Homo sapiens: one gene and its partner. The protein of the gene in region 1 purifies or fractionates together with the protein of each later gene. This does not show direct contact. Each region holds a gene or a part of one and is shown on either strand. Other genes may lie near its edges.

Evidence for each region.
Region 2: the proteins of BMP5 (region 1) and VWA8 purify together in Homo sapiens (affinity purification with mass spectrometry; 2 studies listed by BioGRID and IntAct, with this or other methods). This does not show direct contact.

Annotation. Positions count from the first base shown.
Region 1 is NC_000006.12:55,751,642-55,761,518, reverse strand, and holds the end of BMP5 (bone morphogenetic protein 5 isoform 1 preproprotein), read left to right. Parts: intron 1-985; coding exon 986-1,062; intron 1,063-2,403; coding exon 2,404-2,514; intron 2,515-5,836; coding exon 5,837-5,986; 3' UTR 5,987-7,866; downstream 7,867-9,877.
Region 2 is NC_000013.11:41,957,162-41,966,916, reverse strand, and holds the start of VWA8 (von Willebrand factor A domain-containing protein 8 isoform a precursor), read left to right. Parts: upstream 1-5,807; 5' UTR 5,808-5,901; coding exon 5,902-6,064; intron 6,065-9,755. UniProt on the Homo sapiens protein: Exhibits ATPase activity in vitro.

The DNA of each region.
Region 1 (9,877 bases):
GGTGAAGGAGAAGAAGTGAGAGTCAGAGGGGTAATAGGATCAAATGAGTCAGAGGGGTAATAAGACCAAAATGTAAAGAGCCTTGTAACCACTCTGAGAATATTTCACTCTTAATGATATGAAGACCATAGAGGGACTGGCAGGGAAGTGATGTAATTAAGTTTACTTGTTAAAAGGTCCACTTGACTAGTTTGCTATAGAGGAGCAAGGGCAGAAGCAGGGAGACTAGCAATGAGGATATTGCAGTAATTCATGCCAGAGATGATGGTGTCTTGGACCAAGACCAATTATGAAGGGCGTGAGAGCAGGTGCATTTTGGACTTATTGAAGATAGTGTGTGAGATTTCCTGACAGATTGGATGTGTAAATGAAAGAAAAAAAAAGAACTATTTTGATTCTTGTTGTTTTGTTTTGGTTTTTATTTTTTAACCCAGGCAACTACCATTAGTCAAGAATGAAGTCTACAGGTGGACAGGATTTTGGGGGATGATTAGAAGCTCAACTTGTGGTATCCTGAGGTTAAGATATTTATTAAAATAAAATCAGCTAAGTAAGATCCCAGTATCTGCCTCATGGAAGATGTTACAAGTTATTGCACAAATATTATATATATATAATCTCTCTCAATATATTAAGTACCCCTAGAGTATGAATGAATTAATGAATAAGTATTCATTGAGCAGATGGTACTCAATGAACGACAGACACCATGCTGTGCCCTGTCAAGTAGATGGCTTAACAGAATCCATGTTAGAGCTTCATCAGGTAAATGGTATTGTCTACATCTCACAGAAGAAGAAACTCAGGACAAGTAACTTGACTGAAGTTCACATGGTTAGTAAGTAGTTCTAACTTTAAGATTGAAACTCATTTTTCCACAACTTCAAATAAAACCCCTTTAAAAAATCTTACCAGTGATCTCACAAAAGAAGTATTAGTATATCTGTAAGCAACCATTTATTCAAAATGTGGTTTTTATCTTCAGATTATAACACAAGTGAGCAAAAACAAGCCTGTAAGAAGCACGAACTCTATGTGAGCTTCCGGGATCTGGGATGGCAGGTAGGAATTTTCAGTCAACTTTGGTGCTTCTTTTCTGAATTATCATAAATCCTTAATAAGTCATAGTCTTTGGCAGTAATTTTCCAATATAATACCCAATGATTTTTGACATGACCATTTAGAATATGGCTTATTCACTTTATTTTCATTTCTCAATTAACCTTTTACCATTGAAACATGATTAGTAGGTATCACAGTCAAACAAAAAAACTACGCTGAATGAGACATAGAACACTAAGATATTTAGGAAGAAAAAAAAGAGTGCCGTTGTTTAAGTATTCCAAACTTTTAATTTTATTGTAAATAGAAGATTTGTTCATATTAGTATAAGTAACTCCACTAAGCCTCTGAGGGTCTCCAACTATTGGAATGTCCCTGTCATGGGGAAGATGACAGACATTTTTTTTTCTTGCACTTAAAAATGTATTGCTATCTTTTGGGTAGCCTTTAGAAACAGGATGAGGAGGAAAATTTCACCAAAGTAATTTTTTAATGGCTCTATGTGGTGACAGTTTAAAATGAAATTTTAAGACTTCTCCTAATATTCTATTAGAATGGATTCTCATATATGAGTTCCTGTATTGAGAAATACTATTAAAATGTAAATATATTCAAAATTCATGATAAACTTTCCACATGAATAACTCAATAATTCCTACATTTGTGCCAAGTTTTATTTCTCTGTGGGAAAAATATCAAGGCAACCATTCATGTACCAATTCTTTAGCTTCCCGAAATTTATCATGTTCAGTTTTTAGGAATTTGCTCCAATTTATTTTTTCTAAAGAGACCATAAAGTTAATGCATGAATGGAAAGAAAAACAGCATGCAGAAAAAATATTAAGGCTTTAGGATGTTGTCAGACTTATAAAACTAAGAATGAGTTCTTAAGAAGTAATGAGAATGATCTCAATTAACTTGATTCTCCTTTTTCTTTCGGGTTCACTTGAACTTTCCAGAGTTCATCATTTCCTGTTTAAACAATATTTAGAATGCTATTTTCTTATAATAGTTTTATTCGTGAATACATGTTTAATACATACTATGAATATCTTACATAACTACCCCTTGGGAGTAATTAGAGAGGACAATTTCTTGTGAAAATATTTATACTTTTGTCCTAAACTTCAGCTTAAAATTAAAGGGTGTGGGGAAGATAATTCCATTAGAATAATTGTTGGACCAAGAATAGAAACCTATTCAGATACAATATATTTCAATAACTTTTAAGATTTTTTAAAAATTTTTACTTTGGTGATATTTTTTCTTGTTGTTTTTTTTTTTTTTTTTTTTTTTTTTTTTTTTTTTTTTTGTGTGTGTGTGTGTGTGTGTATGTGTCAGGACTGGATTATAGCACCAGAAGGATACGCTGCATTTTATTGTGATGGAGAATGTTCTTTTCCACTTAACGCCCATATGAATGCCACCAACCACGCTATAGTTCAGACTCTGGTAAGCTTTGTTTTTGAAGGATTAAGAAAAGCTTAGAATGCAAGCATATTATAAAGTTGTTTTAGAGGAAAGCATCTATTTACAATTTTAATGCATTATTTTATCTTCTCAAACTCATTTGTTTCTTTTTAGAGCTGAAGTAACAACTGTGGGTATAGTCAGGAAACTCGGGCTGGTTTAGAGTAATCCCAGTTACACAATGGAGAAGGATTCAGCTAGGAAAACTGGAGTAATAACATGAAATGGTCATCTTGAACTGTTTGTTCATTACACAGTATGACTAAGCACACAGGTTCCCTGGGGCTGTTTCTAACCTAGCAATTCATTAGTAATCATTGCAAAAACATTGAGTAATAGCTGTACTAAATTTCATCTGAGGGTTTTTAATTATTTAAGAATGTTCTATAACATACTTTGGTATTATAAAAGTTCTTCAATGTAGTATACAAATAGGAAGCTAATTTCTATTTCTTATTGTTCTCCTCCTCCTCCTGTAATCTTTAAAGTAGAAATTATACTTCCTTTTCTTTATTCCTCAATCTCAGAAACTTAGCAGTGATTAAATCTCTAATAATCTAGGCTTATTTTTATGAACAATGTACTGAAGGGTTGACGTGATTAACTGATTGCCTTGTACCTAATGAGCTCATGAAACCTATTGAGAGTCTGATGTACCTCATAGCATCTGGCCTATCGATTTGGCAGAGGAACAATCTCCCTAAGACTAAATGAGAGGCTCCTAGAAAACATACCAGACTATGTGACATAATTTTAAATCAATGTTTGGGCTAATATAAAAATTTTAACTTTTGTATTTAAGAAGAATGGGAGAGAACACATTATTTTAGAATCAAGGCTTGATGGGAGTGGAATTATTTGGTGGACGCCAGTAAGAGAAAAGTAGATAGTAGACAATCTTGTCTTTGTGGGTGAGGTTTATTTATGGAAAAAGAAAGAATTACTCTTAGAATTTGTGAAGATTCGACTCTCCATAAGTTTGCTATTTTCCCCCACAATTAATTTAAAACTTAAAGCTGAATTAAGGAATAAACAATGATATCTGTGAACTGGCAAAAGCAAATACTTGAATGACTTGATATTTACTGGCATCTTTATTGACTTAATAAAATACGACAGAATATCTAGACACCAAAAAGTGCAATCTATAACAACTAGAGCATGAACGTTATCAAAGACTGGAAATAACCTTGGGCTAGAGAGCAACAGAAAGATAAAGCAAATATACATTTTGATAATAAATTATTTATAAGTATTCTTCTTTTTATTGATTCATGACCAGTGAGAATGCCTACTTTAGTGCCATATACAAGGTAAAGAGTAAATTTCTGGGGGGATTTAAAGTCTGATATGACTTCACCTTTGCTATCTGTAAGTATAAGCTCTTCTTTATATGGAATAGTGTTTCCAGGAGTATGGAGTGTAGGTAGGCTTTGCAAGGATGGATGTTTTGCATTCAAACTTCTACCACTAAAAGAATTTTTAAGAAGCTAACTTTTCTCTTTGTATATGAGAATTCATGTTGACATGAAAGCATATCAGATAAAGAAGAATGCTGTTGTTTCATCCTATGAAGAGAACTTCATGATCACTGTCTTTCTGTAAGGTCATAGAATAACTCCTATCAGTTGAAGTAATGCTATTTAATTTCTCAGAAAATTCTTTGCCTCTTTTTATCATCATTTTGATGACTATGAAAGCAGACTTTTGCTTCCTTAGATATGGATCTAATGTATCAAAAATTCCCTCAGGCTAAGCAATGCCTACTTATTGAAAAATACCCTTTGTCAAATACTCCCCCTTCTCTCATTTTTTCTTTTTTAAAATAAATAAATACATATTTTCAGCTCTTATGGCTGTAGTAAAGTATCAAAAAACAAATATAAAAAAAATCTGACACAAACTTTGAACAAGAGTCTGCTCTGTATCTCTACCCTGGGATGTAGGACATAAGTCATTGCAAAACTGGAGCATACACGTGAAGTTTGATTTTTTTTCCCTGGTGTTGTGCACGCTTTATGTTTGTTCTGTGAAGGACATGAAACAAAAAGACGGAGGAAAGCATGTTTGTGACTAATATATTGAGAAACCATTCAAGAACAATCCATTTTTTTTCCGTTAGGCTGCCAAGGCCATTGAAACAGCAGGATTATCAATCATGTATGTGTGGGTTATGGAAGATAAAGCTGATGAAGGACATAAGCAGCATCAGAAATTTGTAGAAACTATCCAACTTTTAGTTTTGTGAGGCCTTAGGAAATTTCAAGTTCATGTCAGATCACCTCATTTTTCCTGCTGTTTCTGTCCACATGCAAGGCCCCTATATCATTTCAGCCAGGACGTTGTACAGCCAAAACTGTAAGAGGCTGTATTTGCTTTTTGTGGATCCCGTAAGACTCATCAGTGGGATTTCCCATAAACTCCTCTGGGGGAAGGGCCAGAATAGGTGGGTGGGAAATGGGGGAACTGTGTTCTGGCTCTTTTCTCAATTATTTCAAATCATAGGCAGACTGCCAGTCTGATCAAAATTATTATCAACCCTTTACTTAAGCATTTCACTTTTCATGTACAGACACCTTTTTAGGCTTTTGGGGAGGTGGATGTTCATTTGTAAAGTCTCTAGGCCCTTTGCTTCTGATTTAGCTTAGCCTGCTTTTTGGCACTTGTCTAGGGGGCAGGCAAGGGAGAAAAAAAGTAAATGGATATTAAACTCCAGCCAATGTGATAAAAAAATTCTATGAAGAGCTGAAATCATTGCTCTAAGGCAAGTATTGGATTATATGTGGATTTTATTTTATTATGATTTTTATGCTTCTTTTACCATGGAAAATTAAGAGTTGGCTTAAAATGTATGATTTATTGCTTAATTTTCCTTTTAAAAGATAATTCTTAGATCCAAATCTTTCTGCAACTATGTGTTTTCATTGATTTGCTCTTGTAACTTCCATATTCCTCATGATATATATAGGAACAGTTATTTCAACTAAAAGCAACAACGTGCTAGTTGCTGTGTTCTTTCCCTAGGAAAACTTCCACTGAATATTCTATAGAGGAAGTTTTCTTTATTTGGTGAGATATTTTTCAAGGTTCAAACACATAATTGAATTGGCTGGGTTGATTCCAGGTGTTAATGCTTAAGAATACATCCTTCAGTCCCCCACCCCAGTCATGGAATAAATGGGAGAAGGGAGATCAGCTTAATGGTGTGCCTGATTATGAGTGATAAAATAATCATACCATTTTAAAACTGCAAAAGAATGTATATTTTATTTCTTAATAAAACAAAACCTTTTTTCTTTCCCAGGTTCATCTGATGTTTCCTGACCACGTACCAAAGCCTTGTTGTGCTCCAACCAAATTAAATGCCATCTCTGTTCTGTACTTTGATGACAGCTCCAATGTCATTTTGAAAAAATATAGAAATATGGTAGTACGCTCATGTGGCTGCCACTAATATTAAATAATATTGATAATAACAAAAAGATCTGTATTAAGGTTTATGGCTGCAATAAAAAGCATACTTTCAGACAAACGGGGAATTTCCTAAAATTAGTCTGGCTCATTTTGACTCTTTTCCTATGTACAATATCATGTATATAGTCATTTTTATTTATTTAAACGTATATATTCTCTTCTGTGGAGGCTTTATCAATAAAATCTATTTCATAGGCCACTACATTATACAATAGATCATCTAGTATAATTTTCAATGGGTTATGCTGAGTCCATTCAATTCCATTTCAACATTTTTTTCTAATACAATTTTACATAATTTTCTGAGATTAGACAGAACTCCTTTGACTGTTTAATATTGTGGAAGGAAATTGAATAATTTAGTTATATTGTGCCAATGAAAACCATGATAGAATATTTATTTAGAAATAAGACTTAAAAAAATAACAACCCAAACAAAAATTCTTGGATAAACACAATTTCTCTTTTAGAGTTCCTGCTTCATTAGATAAAGTGAAATGTTGAACTGGATTTGAATAAATAAACGGTAGGCAGAACATAGAAGCTGAAAGATTGCACAGAATTGTTTTAACTGTTTGCTTTAACAGAAGTGGTGTAACTGTAGGAGCATGTTCCTTTTTGGCTTGTGGATTGTAGATTTTGCAAAGAGCTCAAAGCTTCAGGAGACAGGCTTGAGCCTGTGTCCATAGCTTTCCAAGTTAACACTAATTGTAGTACAACCTTCTTACCTCAAATAAATCATGTCTGCCTATTATCTAGAACACTACTGCTGCAGAATTTTTTTTTCAGATTTAAAAACCTAGTCCAAAATAAAGAAACATTTACATGTGCTCCACTTTCCTCCCCACAGGCAAGAGTCACTGCATGCGTAAAATGTACAAGAGCAGAAGATGCCGAAAGAACCATTTTCTTTAGCTCTCCTTTATAACTGAGTTTGCTGATTGATGTGATGCAAGGGATTTTATTTAGAAGTAAAAGCACTGAAACTAAACTGGAGGAAATTACCAAAAGTCCCAGAATGGCTTTGACAGAATTGCCATTTCTAAAGAACAGCTGAAATTCATTTTTCATATCTTTGAGAGTGAGCTCAATGAAAACCTTATTTTGTAAAGGCATTTTGTAAACCTTCTTCCAAGCACAAATAATTCCAAACAGGAAGGTTCTGTTGTGTGTGTGTGTGTGTGTGTGTCTGTGTGTGCATGTGTGTTCTTCCCTCTAAAATTAATTTATTTTCTCTATCTATTAGAATGCCCTCTAAGGCCTTTCTTTAACACACACTGACTTTTTGAAGAATGATCTTTAGATTGATAACTTGCTATTTATGGTGACTCTGTGGTTAGGCTTATTTACCGTTAATCTAAAGTATTCATAAAGCACCATTTATTAATCATCCTTTTGGATCTTTCAAACCAAACGTATACCAAAAATGTCTTCAAAAATGTTATGGCTTTGTTTGTAATTCGGGTATATTAAAATGTTGTTTTGAAATACAGTTTATCTTAAAGAAAATTTGACAGTAACTATATTAAGGGGTACATTAAGTAATATATTTTTAATTAATGGTGTACCATTGAGAGAATAAGAAATGGAAGTCTATTGTTTTATTCTTTAAATGTGCTGTTTAAATATATTTCCATATTTTAAAATATATTAAACAGATGCTAATTTCTGCTGTTCTTGATTTGGTTCTTTATTTAAAAGGAATACAAAATGTAAGTATATCATAAATTGAGACAATAAGAATATTTATCAAATGTAAACTGTTTGTGGATCACATGATTCTTTATGTTGTTCTTAATTGCCAAAATTGTTTTTTGTGTTGTTAATAATTATCTCACTATTAAATGTGCAAAGCAACAATCCATGAATTAAAGATTTTCTTAATCTGTTCAAACAACAAATTTTAAAAATAGCAAAAAATAATTAGAATGGAGAAATACCTCATTTGTTCTTTTTCATATGAGAAGGGAGGTAATTGGCATCAGTGCTTTTGCATTTTCTAAAATTACATATGTGTAGCATAATACGCACATATACTTGGTCACATTAGTTTCTAATAACTATTACAGTAAACTCTTAGTATCACCTTGGTGATACTCAAGCTCTTACTAGACACCAGAATAATTTGACCTATTTTAACAGGTCTTCATTCAGGTCTTTTTAGTTCGTTAATGATGTACTCACTTTTTTGATTGTTTATTTTTAATTTTTCTGTTTTATACTTGTTTTTACTTTGTAAAGTGGCCATAATCCTTTTTGGAAATAGAAGGGCATAAATCATAAATATTCAAATTCTTTAAAACTAAGGCAAAAATAGTCTACATTAAACTAAAGAAATTAAGAAAACACAGGCAGAAAATCCAAAATTATTTTTTTCTCAACTAAGAACTGTCATTTTATAATCCTAGTATCATCATCATCAAACCCAAGCCAGAGTCTACTGGGTACTTCACAAGCTGGCAGATATCATCTCCCAAGACATTTACAATGAATAATTAGCTTATGTTCCAGTTCCATTCAAGGCAGAAGAAATCCTCATTCCCAAACACAAGTAACCATCTCATAACCATTCAGTCCAGTGCTCAATCTATTATCTAATTTCCATCTCAGATTACCTATTTTTCCTTTCACAATTTTTTTTTTGGTCTGGAATTTTTTAAAGTTAGAAGTGAAGATGCCTTTGCTGATAAAGCATAAAAATTGTTGGTATACAGGTATACATCTGTGTTTTATCAAGTTTCTTTAAGATCATAATTGAAGAGAAAGTACAAAAAGTAACAATCAATGTCAATGCTTATTTAAGTAGAAAATGATGCTATATCCAAGTTAGCAATTTTAAAAAAATAGCAAAGGCTCTGCAAAATTTTAAAAGTCTATTGTGATATTTGTTAAAGGCTGTTTTAAATACAGAGATTTCAAAGACAGGAAAAGTCACATCAGATACAGCCTTTGAAAATTACAAAGAAATTTCAAAAATTAAAAGCATGTATGTTAACTTTTGCATCCTTGTTTCAACTTCACTAAGGCAGCTAGCCTAAAATCAATTCTGGGCCAGGCGTAGTAGCTCACATTTGTAATCCCAGCACTTTGGGAGGCCGAGGGGGTGGATCACCTGAGGTCAGGAGTTTGAGACCAGACTGACCAACATGGTGAAACTCCATCTCTGCTAAAAATACAAAATTAGCTGAATGTGGTGGCACATGCCTGTAATCCCAGCTACTTGGGAAGTTGAGGCAGGAGAATTGCTTGAACCTGGGAGGCAGAGGTTGCAGTGAGTTGAGATCATACCATTGCACTCCAACGTGGGCAACAAGAGCGAAACTCCATCTCAAAAATCAAATCAAATCAAATCAAATCAAATCTGAAGGGTCAAGGTAGGGGATGGGTAGATACAGTAGAGCCTCAACTTCTGTAAATTATAGAGAAGAGAATAAAGTAGATAATACTGCATAAACAGCCTCAAGAATCAGTCTGGAAACAGGACCTAACCCAAGAGTTTAGTGGGATATAAGCAATATATTTTTCAGTTCATTGTGCATAATACTATATAGTGAAATATAGTAGAACTTACTTAAAAAGCTGGACTATATTTATTTTCTTTCAGGTATCTACAGAAAAAGCTGAGTAGGAGAAAAATTCTCAAACCTGAGCATAAGCCCAATAAGATAGCTTAGACTACATATCACTTTCTCCAATACACACACACACACACACACACACACACACACACACACGTGTGTATAGGGGAGAAATGAGTACTGTATTAGTAGCATTTTCTGATTGCTATTAGCCTGGAGCTTTGGTCAATGACCATTCCATGTGGCAAGAACCAAAGCCTTAGGTCTGTGCAGGGCAGGAGCTCAGATCAGAG
Region 2 (9,755 bases), on another chromosome or scaffold:
ACTTACTTGTATACATTAAGTCAGGATTTATTTACTCATGATGTCCAAAGCAATGTTTCAGATTGGGGTGATTCACAGTTCAAAGTATATCACCAGGACATTTTGTTTCCCTTGGTTGCAATCATTTGTTTCACCTTTCTCTTGTCTCAGTCAAGCTCTTCTCGAATTAAAGCCAAGATGGCCCTGACAGTTCTGGAGTTATGTGAGGCTATAAGCATCCATAATCTTAGAAAGAGTCCCTGCACCTATATCCATCTCTGACAAAGCTCTCTGATTGGTGCCGGGTCAAGCACTATGAGGCCAAATCACATGCCGAACCTGTGTGCCTGGTGAGGTGGAGTTAGGTGATGGACAGCCTCACTTGGTATGCAAGATGCAGGTGTAACTTGCATCAGAGAAGCAGAAGGAGTGGTCTGGCAGGCAGATATGACAGAATATCTAGTAAAGAGCGAAACATAGACATTGCTCCTTTGGAGGTAAAGGGATGGAATACCAATGTACCCTTTTATACACTTCTTCATATGTAATGAAAAATACTTATCATAGTAATCAAGGCTTCTAGACACGCCTCAAACACTGAATTTACATTTAATGCCCATTCAAAATATTTTAAATTATGGAGTTGCCTAACTTCTAAAGATTGGTTACTCGAATTGTTAACATTTCCTGAATACCTACTGTGTGCCAGGTGTTTTGCTAGACACTTTACATCTGTTATTGAAGCCTCACAACACTCTATTAAGTACTATCATATCTTTTTTTTTTTTTTTTTTTTTTGAGACAGGGTCTTGGCTCTGTTGCCAGGCTGGAGTGTGGTGGAGCGATCTTGGCTCACTGCAACCTCGACTCCTTGGTTCAAGTGATTATCCTGCCTCAGCCTCCTGAGTAGCTGGGATTACAGGCACGTGCCATCACGCCCAGCTAATTTTTGTATTTTTGGTAAAGACGGGGTTTCACCATGTTGGCCAGGATGGTCTCGATCTCCTGACCTCATGACCACCCGCCTCAGCCTCCCAAAGTGCTGAATTACAGGCGTGAGCCACCAAGTCCAGCCATATCTGTTTTACAGATGAAAATATTGAGGTGCAGAAAAGATAGCAATTTGGCTAATGTCATACAACTAGAAGTGATGAAGTATGATTGAAGCCCAGATTTGCCTGGTTCAAAAGCCCATAGTCTTCTTCGTATTTCTTCCTTACTTAAATCTATTTGCTCACATGGATTTGAGCTGCCTAAGTGTGGTGGAGGGAAAAAGTAATGTAAGTTGGCAACCTACTAGAAAGTGTCAATATTCTTAGTATGCAGAAAGCTCTTAAAATTAGTTAGAAAAATATTTTAAAAATACACAAAGGAGAATTAGATAAATAATAACTAAAAACACAAATTACTTATGAAAAAATGTTTATCCTTACTGGTAATCAAAGGGATAAAAATAAAAATACCCATCTATCTGGTCAGCCCTTTCTCTCTCTCCAAACCAGTCCCCCTAGCCCCTGTCTCCCACCTGTCTTCTCCAGCTCTGCAGCAGGCATACATCAAATGAAAGAGGCTGGGAATGGTGGCTCATGCCTGTAATCCCAGTAGTTTGGGAGGCAGAGGCAGGGAGATCACTTGAGCCCAGGAGTTTAAGACCAGCCTGGGAAACATAGTGAAACCTTGTCACTACAAAAAAACAAATTAGCTAGGCATGGTGGTACATGCCTGTAGTCCCAGCTACTAGGGAGGCTGAGGTGGGAGAATTGCTTGAGCCCAGGAGGTAGTGGCTGCAATGAGCTGTAATCATGCCACTGCACTCCAGCCTGGGTGACAGAGCCAGATCCTGTCTCAAAAAAATGGAAAAAAGAGCAATAAGAGGTCAGTCTTGGAGTACCAAAGAACCAGTGACTTTTGTGTTTTTTTTGTTTTTTTGTTTGTTTTTTGTTTTGAAACAGAGTTTTACTCTTGTTGCCCAAGTTGGAGTGCAATGGCACGATCTCAGGTCACTGCAATCTCTGCCTCCTGAGTTCAAGCGATTCTCCTGCCTCAGCCTCCCGAGTAGCTGGGATTACAGGTGCACATCACCGCACCCAGCTAATTTTTTGTATTTTTAGTAGAAATGGGGTTTCTCCATGTTAGCTAGGCTGGTCTCGAACTCCTGACCTCAGGTGATCCGCCCGCCTCGGCCTCCCAAAGTGTTGGGATTACAGGCGTGAGCCACTGCACCTGGCTGTGATTTTCCTTTTTCCCTCCCTCTCTATAAAGAACAGTTGTACAGCTTCATGACTGAAATGTGTGGCACATGGGTGATCTCCTATAGGTATTACTAAAGATGAATATTCTTGGGCCCTTTCAGACCTATTGACTCAGAATCTCTGGGTGCAGGGAGGAACGAAACCCTATAATCTGCATTTTAATAAGTTCTCCAGGTAATTAGGATGCACACAAAAGTCTGGGAACCAGTGGTATGAACCTTTGATTTCTTAGCTGGGGTAGACAGTAGGGAGGAGTGGAGCACCCACCTTTTTTCAGTCAGACATAGCATGGAAGGATTATTAGTTGCATTTTTCATCAAGTTACATTAATGTGGTATGTAAAAAATATTCCTCCCAAACTCTGGAAAGAGCTTGACAGTCAATACTAGCTTTTGGTAGTGTGATTTTCTTTTTTCTTTTTTTTTTTTTTTTTGAGACAGAGTCTCACTCTGTTGCCCGGGCTGGAATGCACTGGTGCGATCTCAGCTCACTGCAACCTCTGCTTCCCGGGTTCAAGCGATTCTCCTGCCCCTGCCTCCCGAGTAGCTGGGATTACAGGCACCCACCATCACGCCTGGCTAATTTTTGTATTTTTAGTAGAGATGGGGTATTGCCATGTTGGCCAGGCTGGTCTCAACTCCTGACCTCAGGTGATCCACCCATCTCAGCCTCCCAAAGTGCTGGGATTATAGGTTTGAGCCACTGTGCCCGGCTGGTAGCTTGTTTTTTAATAAGCATGTGATCAGATATTTTAGTGAGAGTTTGAGAGACTTTACACAGATTGTGATGAACATCTTTTAAAACAAAACACCTTTGGTTCTTCTTTAAAAACATTGTGAAGGTCCATTCTTTCCCATTCAGTCTCATTGCCATCAGCACTGTTCATCATTTCAAGTAGAGACTATTTTTACTGCCACGTAGCTAGCACTTGATGCTTCCTGTCTTCCTAATTCAATTCATAGTATGTCACCACCTAAAACACGATCAAAAAGTCCAGTAGCTGCCCAGTTTGCTCATCGGATGAAGTCCAACTTCATCCAGCTACTCAAGATTCTTCACTCTGTAACCTTCTCCTCCTGCTCTGCCAACACCTTCTACTACTTTCGAAAGATTAACCTCCTCATCTGGCTGGTCTCATGGCCCCTGTAACTGAACTCTGTCAGGACTCCAAGCCTCTACTTAGGCTCTATACCCCGCTTCTCTGTGTATCCAGTCCTAAATGGCATTCAAAGTTAAGCTCAGGTGCTGCCTTTTCTCAGGCTCAAAGTTTTCCTCCCCATTGTAGCTTTGTCACTCTAAAAAACCTTCACCATTTTTCCATTTCCTGGAGGTTAATGTGCAAACTCCTTCTCTTGGCATACAACATGGCCCCAGATTCTCTTTCTGGTCTTATTCTTACAAACTGTTGTATATACTTGACCTCTAGACACACTGAATCACTCTCTGGTTCTCAATCATGCCCTGCACTTTCAGCTGTTTCTTTCTCTCTCTCTCTGTACATGATCTGTCTGCCAGATTTGACTTGTCTCAGCCTGACAAACTCTTGTATAATATATCCTACATGAATCATTTCAAACACTACCTTCTCTGTGAAGACTCCAGGTGCAGCAATCCACTCCACAGTATGTTGAACCTAAATCTCTTGACACGTGTCTCACTGTATTGCAATTCTTTATTTGCATATTTATCATCAATACCTAATGTGAGCCCATTGATTCACAGTATCTAGCAGGGTACTGTTTATACAGCAGTTACTCAATAAATGTTGTCGTTGGGAGGCTGAGGCAGGAGGATCACTTGAGGCCAGGAGCTTGAGACCAGCCTGGGCAACATAACAAGACTCCACTGCTACGAAAACAAAAACACAAAAATTAGCCAGGCACAGTGGTGCACGCCTGTAGTCTCAGCTACTAGGGAGGCTGAAGCAGGAGGATCACTCGAGCCCAGGAGTTCGAGGTTGCAATGAGCTATAATACTGCCGCTGCACCCCAGCCTGGGCAACAGAGTGAGACTTTGTCTCTAAAAAAAATAAAACTAGGCAAAAAATGTTGTTGAATGCTCTAACTTGTGTTGATCTCTCCATTGTCTTAACTCCAAGAGCTCTTAGTGCTTATATCAACCACTTTGCAAAATTGCCTTAGGTTGTTCTCCCATTCTTTCAGGTGTCTACTGAGTTCCAGCGAGATTAAATGGAGATATCTTGACCAAGGTATTCAATTCTTCTAGCCTCAGTTTCTTCATCTGTAAAACGGAGGATAATAATAGTACCTCAAAGCATTTTTATGTGAAATGGGATAATTCATTAAAATCTTGATACATACAATGTGCTCAAAGTAGGAAAAGCATTTTATAAGCTTACATCCTAAATTTATGTCTTAGGGTTGCTATGAGGATTAAATGAGAAGATACACATGAAACGAAGTCATAATATATTGTGTAACTACTTATTACCTTTATTTTCACTGTCTCCTCATCTAGGTTAGAAGCCTGGTTCAGCCTTCATTCCTCAAGTTCTTCCGCTGGATGCCCAAAGCCTTCCTTACCTAGCCTTGTTTGACTTTTACAGTCTCCACTCTAACACTCTCTTCTCAGCACTCATCACAGGGTCAGGCGCAGGGTAGGTGCTATGTATTTAGACAGTGGCAGCTCTAGAATTAGCAAGGTCTTTAGCTGAAAGTGAGGTCTTCTGCCTTCTTTTTGATGTTTGCTTGTATAACTTGTCTCAAATATTTTGCCTTAGTCAATTCACTGTGACATTTTGGGGATGCAGTCTAATTACATTAGGCTTAGTTTGCTTTGTGGTAGGACCATTTCCGATGTTGGAATGTACAAGAGGGAGGCAGCCTTAGCCAGTGTCCTACTTTTTCCTTTACTAAAGACATAAATCATCTTTATATAACTTTTGTATTACAGCATGACTAGAAAAGTGCTTGATCTGGATCCTTTCTGATATTTAAGCAATTTCCATCTATCACTAAGATGTGAATTTTTTCCTTAGAATTTAGGAAGCGGTAATAAAACACAGAAACAAACAACCACCACCAAAAGGACAAAGGGTAAAGCTTTCACGTACGGTTTGGAAACACTAGTGTGGTTACAATGAATCAAGACAGTTGTGAAAGTTCCCATCATCTTGTGCATGTTTTCTCCATTTCCGAAATCTGAAGCCGAATACAGGGAAAGCTCCCTATACTTACTGGGCCTTTAACTAAGAAACGAAGACTTGGGGCAAGCATCTGAAGAGTCACACCGACAAATGCTCCTAAAACCCTTGGCATTTACTGAACTCCTGAGATTCTGTGGGATCGCAGGGAAACGGCGGGTGAAGGCCTGGTGCATCCAGGTGAACAGACAGTCTCACGGACTGCGAGGCGCTTGCCAGAGCCCAGCGCCGCAGCTCGGAGCACCCCCGCGGTGCGGGCAGTCCCGGGACGGTGCCGGCTCTTTGGGCTGGAGCTCCGCAGGCTCTTTCCGCCCGTCTGGGCCATGCAGGGCCGGGTAGGGCCGGGCTGAGTCTACTGAGCCGGCCGCGCCGCGGGGGAAGGAGTTTCCGGCGGACTCGGCTAGGTGCCGCTTCCTGTCCCCTTCTCCGCGCTGCCTCACGGTGCCTGCACGGGACGCCGCTCGATCCCCGAGCCCCCTCGCCGTCCCCGACAGCCCCCCCGGCGCCATGCAATCCCGGCTTCTACTCCTCGGGGCACCCGGAGGCCACGGCGGCCCGGCCTCGCGGCGCATGCGGCTGCTCCTGCGGCAGGTGGTGCAGCGCAGGCCGGGTGGCGACAGGCAGCGGCCGGAGGTCAGACTGTTGCACGCCGGCTCGGGGGCCGACACAGGTAACTCGGGGTGCGCCCCTGTCCTCCCTGGTGCCCCTGCGCTCCGTGCCGGGTCCCCGCGCGCCCCCGCCCCTCCTCTCTGTTGCTTCGCTGCGCTTGGAAGGACCGTTTGCCGAGCGGGGAGCTGAAAGATTGAGGTTCTAGTCCCGACCTCGGCGCTAACTGCTGTGTAACGTGGGGGCAAGGCGCTCGCCCTCTCTGTGCCTGATTCTGCAACCCGAGGGGTCTGGACTAAGGTTTCTGATGACCTAGAAGAGTGATTTCTCCTTCCCCTGCCGCTGCCTTTACCCCCAGAATTCTGACTTAGGTTATAATACTCGTAGAGGTTAATGCCTCAGCCCTATGGAATTATTGAAAGCTGGATTTGACCTTGCTCTCTGAGCCTCAAGGGCCTGGAAGCCGGTCTGTGTCATGTTCTAGCCAGGGCTTGTGGCGGCTTAGAAGGGAACATTCTTGCCAAAGAACCCATAGTTCACGGTGTTTTAAATGCATCCCCGAGCCTTTCCAAGTTTTACAGGAGTTTTCCTTAAAGTTTCACGTAATTCTTAGAGCTGACAGTTACACCTTAATTTAGTTAAAACACTTGCCTCTACAAATGAGGTAATTGAAACCCAGAAGGGAAAAGTGATTCGCTGGAGAACACACAACTAATTACTATGCTAGAATCACATGCTTTGATTTCTAAGCTCAGTATTTTTTGGCTCTACTTGAGCTGGTTTTAGGAATTCTTTTTCTTGTGTGTTGGTGGAGTTAGAGTTACTGTGATGGTTAAGGAAAGGATATCTGTTGTTGCTACCCTTGAATGGTGAAGTGATTCCAGACAAGATTTTGTCAATGTCAGTGCTGCTTGGAATAACAGGTTTTCACTATGAAATTGTAGGTTTCGTTGTCCTCTTGCATTTTCCCCGCAACCCCCAGTTTTCCTTGCTAAGAAATGAGCATATGGGCCGGGCGCGGTGGCTCACGCCTGTAATCCCAGCACTTTGGGAGGCTGAGGCGGGCGGATCACGGGGTCAGGAGATCGAGACCATCCTGGCTAACACGGTGAAACCCCCGTGTCTACTAAAAAGAAAATACAGAAAAATTAGCCGGGCGTGGTGGCGGGCGCCAGTAATCCCAGCTACTCCGGAGGCTGAGGCAGAAGAATGGCGTGAACCCGGGAGGCGGAGCTTGGAGTGACCGGAGCCACTGCACTCCGGCCTGGGCGACAGAGCAAGACTCCATCTCAAAAAAAAAAAAAAAAAAAGCATATTTAGGTCCCACGTATTTCGTTTTATTCATTGAAGACATACACCACCCCCGTCCCCCACCATAGTGTTGCAATTTCAAATTTTACTTTTTGTTTTTTTTTTTTTTTTTGCTTTTTCTCAATTACTCTCACTTCTGGGCTGTTTATTCATTTGTTTTTTACATTTTTTGTGTGTTCTTTATTTGTTTTTTGCTCCTTTGCCCTAGAAGGCAGAGGTCAAAGGTGGAAGTATAGCATAAACTATAGGTTGGGTTTTGGAGTTAAACAATTTGGGTTGGAATCCACTTATCCACTATCTAACCATGGGTCGTTGAGGGTAGGTTACTTAACTTTGTGTCCTAGTTTTCTTAACTGTAAAAGGATAAGAAGAATATATCTATTATGGTTGTTGTGAGGATTTATTAATTAATATAATCTGTGGCACATATTAATGCTCAATAAAAGTTAGCTTTTTTATTCTTAGTATGTACAGTTTTAGCTATTTGAGAATTATTCTGTTTCCTTGCCTTTAGAAGACATGAAACCAAGTTTGTTTAGATTCAGGACTGTTCAGACTATCTGGGTAGGCAGATTTAGCCGAGTGAATTGACTTGAACTTTTTAAAAAACAATTGTTCTTTGTACATGGATAATACATGTTGATTGTAAAAACACATGTGGGTGTGAGTTTTTAAAGTCTGTATTATATACGTATTGGTAGATAAGTTGTAAATGTCCTCAAATTTTGTTATAGCCAGTAAATCAAAGTATAGGCTTTGCTTCAAATGTGAGAGTCATGGACATATTACAGAGAACATACTATCTTCTTTAAATCAGTCATTTACTCTGGCAGGATCAGACCAAAAAGAGGTATTTTTTGAGGGTGTGAGAACTGTAACTGAATGCAGCTGGGAACCCACCAGAGATCTGGACTTGAGTAAGAGCAGTTGTGAGCCAGGTAAATGGACAGCACACTTTTGGCTACTCTGAGGCCTGAGAGTAAGGCTATCAAGATGGAAGTGTCCCATTTTGAATCAGAGATCATACATGGACAAGTGTAAAACTACAAATAGCAATAGGCCATAATGGATTACATCTTATGTTGGGATGATGCTCTCAGCTGCATTCATACATGTGACCAGTAACTGATTATCTCCTCTCTCTGTAATTGACATTGCTTCCTAATAGTTTGAAAAAAGAACAACAAAGTTCATAAATAATATATTTAAGTTATATACTGCTGTTATTTCTCCTGGAGTATTTGTTTTGTTTATCTATATATTCGTTTGGTGCCTGCCAACACTTTGTACCTAGTAAGCATTCAGTGGCTTATTTTGTGAAAGTTCATACAGAGAAGGAGCAGGAGAGGCTGGAATTGTCGTTTGCTCTCAAGAGAGGACCTTTGTTAAGCCTGATAAGCAGAAGGAAAATAGGTCATTTATGTTAAAAACAAAACAAGCAGATAAACTCAACCCAAACCCACTGCTTTTTATCCTGTGCTGTCAGATAGTATAAGTATCTATAATTGTAAATTCTTTATATCTCTTTATACTTCCATTAAAATTACTGTCTCTTGGTTTTAAGAGCAAAGAGGTTAACAAGGATATCTACTGCAGAGAGTTTTCAATAAAGATTATTGTAGTGTTTTTACAGATGGAGCCAAGCAAGTTGTTTCAGTGGGACTCTGATGTTAAATGGATTCAAATATACTATAGATCAAATGATAAACCTAGAAACATAACTGTATAAATATATCATGACATTTTGGTGCTTTCCTTTAACGCCATTATTATTAAAGGGATTCACAGTTTTTTCTTTATGACTCTTGTATATGAAGTAAATTTGTTTATAGAAATACCCTAAAATACTTTTACACAGCAATCTATGTTTATTATAGAAGAGTGATAAGTACAGATTCCCTAAAACATGATCCTCCCACCCAAATTTATAATTATCAACTTTTTAGCATTAATCCTATCAGATTACATATATATGTATAATTATTTATTTATTTATTTTTGAGATGGAGTCTTGCTGTGGCACCCAGGCTGGAGTGCAGTGGAGCAGTCTTGGCTTACTGCAACCTCCACCTCCTGGGTTCAAGCGATTCTCCTGCTTCAGCCTCCCAAGTAGCTGGGACTACAGGTGTGCACCACTGTATTAATCTGTTCTCACACTGCTATAAGGACATGCCAGAGACTGGGTAATTTATGAAGAAAAAGAGGTTTCATGGACTCAATAGTTTCGCATGGCTGGGTAGGCCTCACAATCATTGTGGAAGGCGAAGGAGGAGAAAAGTCACGTCTTACATAGCGGCAAGTAAGAGAGCTTGTGTACAGAAACTCCCCTTTATAGAACCATCAGACCTCGTGAGACTTTTTCACTACCACGAGAACAGCACAGGAAAAACCTGCCCCCATGATTCAATTACCTCCCACTGGGTCCCTCCCATGACACATGGGGA